2 separate regions of the Homo sapiens genome follow, and region 1 is linked to region 2. The links come from fine-mapping of genetic effects on gene expression. A gene starts in region 2. The other region holds a variant in brackets. All regions are shown on one strand. Distances are between the middles of the regions.

Evidence for each region. PIP is the estimated chance that this variant, and not a neighbour inherited with it, causes the effect. A credible set is the group of variants that fine-mapping cannot tell apart.
Region 1: its variant is the best candidate, but not a certain one, in a credible set for the expression of SPPL2B in minor salivary gland (GTEx, PIP 0.88).

Annotation. Positions count from the first base shown.
Region 1 is chr19:1,700,830-1,703,735 of GRCh38, reverse strand. No RefSeq gene overlaps it. Among named protein-coding and RNA genes, the nearest start is that of TCF3, 50 kb to the right of the region's middle. The variant G/A (reference allele first, on the strand shown) is at 1,784.
Region 2 is chr19:2,327,573-2,330,478 of GRCh38, reverse strand. It overlaps SPPL2B (signal peptide peptidase like 2B), which reads right to left and starts at 1,795. Exons shown (of 15, transcript NM_152988.3): 1 at 1,704-1,795. The coding sequence starts at 1,769. LSM7 (LSM7 homolog, U6 small nuclear RNA and mRNA degradation associated) reads left to right here and starts at 1,893. Exons shown (of 4, transcript NM_016199.3): 1 at 1,893-1,918; 2 at 2,002-2,092. The coding sequence starts at 1,913. RefSeq lists silencers at 1,509-1,768, 2,789-2,888 and enhancers at 1,979-2,028, 2,039-2,088, 1,524-2,178, 2,459-2,518.

The DNA of each region.
Region 1 (2,906 bases), 630 kb after region 2:
AAACCCCGTCTCTATTAAAAATACAAAAAATTAGCCAGGCATGGTGGCGGGCGCCTGTAGTCCCAGCTACTCGGGAGGCTGAGGCAGGAGAATGGCATGAACCTGGGAGGCGCAGCTTGCAGTGAGCTGAGATCACACCACTGCACTCCAGCCTGGGCGACAGAGCAAGACTCCGTCTAAAAATATATATATTTAAATATATGTATTTATATATATAAATACATATATTTATATATGAAATATACATTTATATATAAATACATATATTTATATATGAAATATACATTTATATATAAATACATATATTTATATATGAAATATATATTTATATATTATATAATTATATAAACTATATAATTTTTAATATATTTATTATATATAATTATATTATATATACTATATATAATATGTGATATACATAATATTATATATTATATATATATAACAACTCCCATTATTGGCATGGATGAGAGTAAATGAACAGGCTGATGTACAATGGAAGGATATGTATTTTATGAAGTTTCAGAGATAATTTGATAAAATGTATCAAAAGCCTTACTATTTGTTTTATGGTCTCTTGACAAGCAACTCCAGGATGAATTTGTCCTGAAGAAAAACTTCAGAGAGTGTAAGAGATTCATGTCCAAGGATGCTCATTGTTGCGCCTTTTCTTTTCTAAAAAAAATTTTCGGCCAGGTGCAGTGGCTCATGCCTGTAATCCCAGCACTTTGGGAGGCCGAGGTCAGGAGTTCGAGACCAGCCTGGCCAATATGGTGAAACCCCGTCTCTACAAAAATACAAAAATTAGCTGGGCATGGTGGCGAGCGCCTTTAATCCCATCTACTCGGGAGGCTGAGGCAGGAGAATCGCTTGAACCCGGGAGGCAGAGGTTGCAATGAGCCGAGATCATGCCACTGCACTCCAGCCTGGGCGAACAGAATGAGACTCCGTCTCAAAAAAAAAAAAAAAAACAAAACAAAACTTCTGGAGATGGGGCCTTGCTACGTTGGCCAGGGTGGTCTCGAACTCCTGAGCTCAAGCAATTCTCCCACCTTGGCCTCCCAAAGCGCTGTGATTATACGCATGAGCCACTGCGCCTGGCCTGTGGTGTCTTCTTCTCTTCTCTTCTCTTTTCTCTTCTCTTCTCTTCTCTTCTCTTCTCTTCTCTTCTCTTCTCTTCTCTTCTCTTCTCTTCTCTTCCTCTTCTTCTCTTCTCTTCTCTTCTCTTCTCTTCTCTTCTCTTCTCTTCTCTTCTCTTCTCTTCTCTTTAGATACAGGGTTTCCGTCTGTCGCCCAGACTGGAATGCGGTGGTGTGATCTCAGCTCACTGCAGCCTCAACCTCCAGGCTCAAGCGATCCTCCCGCTTCAACCTCCTGAGTAGCTGGGTTTATAGACAAGAGCCACTGTGCCTCGCCCAAGGTAACAAGTGAAAATTGTAGACATTTTGGAAAATACTGATACTGCAGCTGGATTTGAATTTCCACCCCACCTTCACTCAATTGTTCTTGCCATTTAAGTACAGTTTCCTAGTTATTTTGTTTGTTTTCTGTTTTTTTTTTTTTTTTGAGATGGAGTCTCGCTGTGTTGCCCAGGCTGGGGTGCAGTGGTGTGGTCTCGGCTCACTGCAACCTCCATCTCCCGGGTTCAAGCGATTCTCCTGCCTCAGCCTTCTGAGTAGCTGGAATTACAGGTGCACACCACCACGCCCAGCTAATTTTTGTATTTTTAGTAGAGACGGGGTTTCACCGTGTTGGCCAGGTTGGTCTTGAACAGACTGGTCTC[G/A]AACTCCTGACCTCAGGTGATCCACCCACCTAGGCCTCCCAAAGCGCCGGGATGACAGGTGTGAGCGACCGTGCCCAGCCCAGTTTCCTAGTTCTTGTACTGCAAGTGTCTTGGCCGTTAAGGGGCCCTTGCCTGTCTCCAGGAAATGGTGTTGTTTCCTCAAACTCACCCCCACTTTGCAGACGAGAGCCCTGAGGCTCCAGGGTCCCACTGTGAGGGACACTCCAACCTGGGAGGGTGTGACTCCCCCCGCACAGTGCTCTTTCCACCACCTGAGGCTGTGGATTCCGGCCGGGGGGCTGGGGAAAGGAGGGGAGACTGCTTTCATCTGCCCACTGGCGAGGGACCCCACCTCACAGCCGGTGAGGGGCCAACCAACCCGTGCCAGGAAGTGGGCCATGGCGGGAAGTCTGTGGGGCCGGGACCCGCCCGGAATACAGACGCAGCTGCAGCGTCGGAGTGGCCCAAATCGGATTCTCCGGGGAAATCTGAAGCCTCTGATGTGTGGGGAAGGTTCAAACTTGAACAAAGGCTGGGTGGACAGGAGACTCGGCCAGGGCCGGGCGGGGGCCAGGAGCCACGGGGGTGATCCTGAGTCTGCCCGTCCTCAGCTGTGATGGGGGCTCCCCAGGGCACCTTCTGGGGGAGATCTCAGGTCCTGCTTTGGGTTCTGTGATGGAGAGGGGGGAGCAAAGAGAGAGAGGGAGGAGGAGAGAGGGAGACAGAGAGACAGAGAATGAGATAGAGACAGAGAGAGAGAGAGGCAGAGACAGAGAGACAGAGACAGACACAGAGACAGAGAGAAAGATAGAGGCAGAGAGAGACACAGAGAGACAGAGAAAGAGACAGAAAAAGACAGAGACACAGACAGAGAGAGGCAGAGAGTGAAATAGAGAAGAGATAGAGACAGAGAGAGACACAGAGAGACAGAAACAGAGATAGAGGCAGAGAGAGACAGAGAGTCAAAGACAGAGATAGAGAGATAGGAAGAGACACAATCAGAGAGAGGCAGAAACAGAGAGACAGAGAGACAAAAAGACACAGAGACAGAGGCAGAAGAAATGGAAACTAAGAGGGAGAGACAGAGACCCACAGAGACATAGAGAGACACGGAGAGATAGAG
Region 2 (2,906 bases):
CAACACCCTTCCCCTCCTGCCGACCCGGCAAACTCCTACTCATCATTCAGAACACCTGCCTCGGGGCCGGGCACGGTGGCTCACGCCTGTCATCCCAGCACTTTGGGTGGCCGAAGCAGGTGGATCACCTGAGGTCTGAAGTTCGAGACCAGCCTGACCAACATGGTGAAACCTCGTCTCTACTAAAAAAAAAAAAAAAAAAATTTAGCCAGGAGTGGTGGCATGCACCTGTAATCCCAGCTATTCGGGAGGCTGAGGTGGGAGAATTGCTTGAACCGGGAGGCAGAGGTTGCAGTGAGCCTAGATCATGCCACTGCACTCCAGCCTGGGCGACAGAGCGAGACTCCGTCTCAAAAAAAAAAAATAGATCTGCTTCGGAAAAGCCTTCCCAGGCAAACTGAGTCCCTCTCTCCACAGAGTTCTGTGATCTTTCTTCCACCTCTGGCTTTCCCCCTCCTTCCAAATGTCTGGGGAGCTCTAGGTGCCTGGCTGCAGAATGGGGGGAGTCCAAAGGGGGCTGACAGAGCAGCTGGGGGTAGGACTGGGGTTCTCAGAAAGCTTCCGAGGGGGCCCGACAGCCTTGCAGAGACCAGGGGCATCTCAGGGTAAGAGAAAAGACTAGAGAGTGAAGCGACTGCAATGAGCTGCAGGCTTCCCCAGCAGCCAGGTCACAACTGGACGGCGCACTCATCTGGATGCGACACGGTCTGACATACTTTGAAAGGGTCACCCCTGCTGTGTCGAGGATGGACTGGGGATGTGGTGGACAAAGGCAGCCACAGCAGAGGGATAGCGGTGGGGCTGGAGGAGTGGAGACTGAGGAGCCAGGTGGCGGCGACGCCTTAAGAGTGAGAACTCTGAGGGGGTAGTGAAGGTTAAGGGCTGCATTTGTGGGGCTGCTCCAGGTTCCATTGCCTGAGCCACCGAACTCAGGAGAGAGGGAAGATTTGGAATTAAGAAAATAAAAGATGCAGTTATGACAGTGCGATCTCGTAGACTGTCCCCACTAGAACCTGACACTCTTTACATCAAATGACACACAATGAACATAATGAAGGCCTGTTGGCCCTGGGCGCTGGTCACCCTGGACAGAACCTCCAGAATCCACACCATAGTCGGTCCTCCTTCTGCACACGAATTCCATCGTCCAAGGTCACGGAGTAAAAGATGGAGCGGGGATCCGACCCCAGTGCAGGGCTGGACTCCTGGCCGCTCCAGGATGCTGCCAGTTACTGGGGGACGCGCGGGACGCCTCTGGGTTCCCCCACCGCACCCCCTAGGGTGAGGTTAGCTTAGCACCGTGCCCGTTCCGCCTAAGGGGAAACTGAGGCTCGGAGAGGGGTGGGCAGCCGCCTGCTCAAGGCCACAGAGCCGGAGAGAGGCGTCCCCGGCGGCAACTGGAGACCCCGAAACGGAGAAGCAGAACCGGAGGATGGAGGGGGCACAAATTTCAGACCCGGTGGGAAGTGAGTGGCGCTGCAGCGGCGGAGGGCCTCCGAGGCGGGGAAAGGAGAGGAGCCGGGGACAGACCCGCAAGGTCACGGCCGAGCCCCGGCACCGCCGGCCGACAACGCGGGGACGGCGGATCCCCGAGGCTGGACCCCCAAGACGGGCCGAGCGGGGTCGTTCCTGCGCGTAGCCCGGGGACAGAGAGGCCGAAGGGCCGCAGCCCGCGGTGCCGTCGGGACCGGTGCCGCGCTCACCTGGGCCGCGAGGAGCAGAAAGGCCGCCAAAAGCCGCGCCAGCGCAGCCGCCACCGCTGCCGCCATGTCGGCCGGTGCCCGCCGCAACCAACGGCAGATGTTTCCCAGCAACGCCCCGAGACCCCGGGCCACGCATGCGCCGCGCATGCGCGTGGGGGAGGTCAAAGGGCGCGGGGCGGTGCCTGCGAAGAGCCACACGGCGCGACAAGATGGCGGTGAGCGCGCGGCGGAATCTGGAGCCGGGGGGCGTGGAGCTCGGGCCGCGCTCCAGGTCTCATGCGCTCTGCTTTCCCCGCAGGATAAGGAGAAGAAGAAAAAGGAGAGCATCTTGGACTTGTCCAAGTACATCGACAAGACGATCCGGGTAAAGTTCCAGGGAGGCCGCGAAGGTGAGGAGGCTCCCGCTGTCGGTACCCCCTCTTTAAAAATTTCAAATAAACCCAGCAACAGAGATGATGAGGACGCATGCGGAAGCACCTCTTTTATTTATTTTCATTATTTTTTTTGAGACGCAGTCTCGCTCTGTCACCCGGGCTGGAGTGCAGTGGTGCGATCTCAGCTCACTGCAACCTCCGCCTCCCAGGTTCAAGTGATTCTTGTGCCTCAGCCTCCCGAGTAGCTGGAATTAATGTGTACCACCACGCCCGGCTAATATTTGTATTTTTAGTAGAGAGGCCATGTTGGCCAGGATGGTCTCAAACTCCTGGCCTCAAGCGATCTGCCTGCCTCAGCCCCCTAAATTGCTGGGATTTCAGGCATGAGCCACCATGCCCAGCCTAGCATTTTTGACTGGGCAAGTGAGCTGCCTTCTCCTAGCCTCCGTTTCCTCATTTGTCAAATGGGGCTGGTAACTCCACCCACTTCACAGGGGGTGGTGAGAATGAATGGTTACAGGCATGTAATGTAATTGAGGCAGCTCTCAGCAGGAAGTAAGCAGTCAGACAACACGTCACTTATTCAATAGCCTCTTGGATCTTTGGTTTCTTTTTTTTGTAAGACGGGGACCCAAACCTCTTTGTCCCTGGATTGTAGACAACTGGGTGGCATGAGAGTTATTAAAAATCACAGTGCCCCAGCCGGACGGGGCGGCTCACGTGTGTAATCCCAGCAATTTGGGAGTCTGAAGCAGGAGGGTGGCTTCACCCTAGGGTTTGAGGCTGCAGTGAGCTATGACCGCACCACTGCACTCCAGCCTGGGCCACA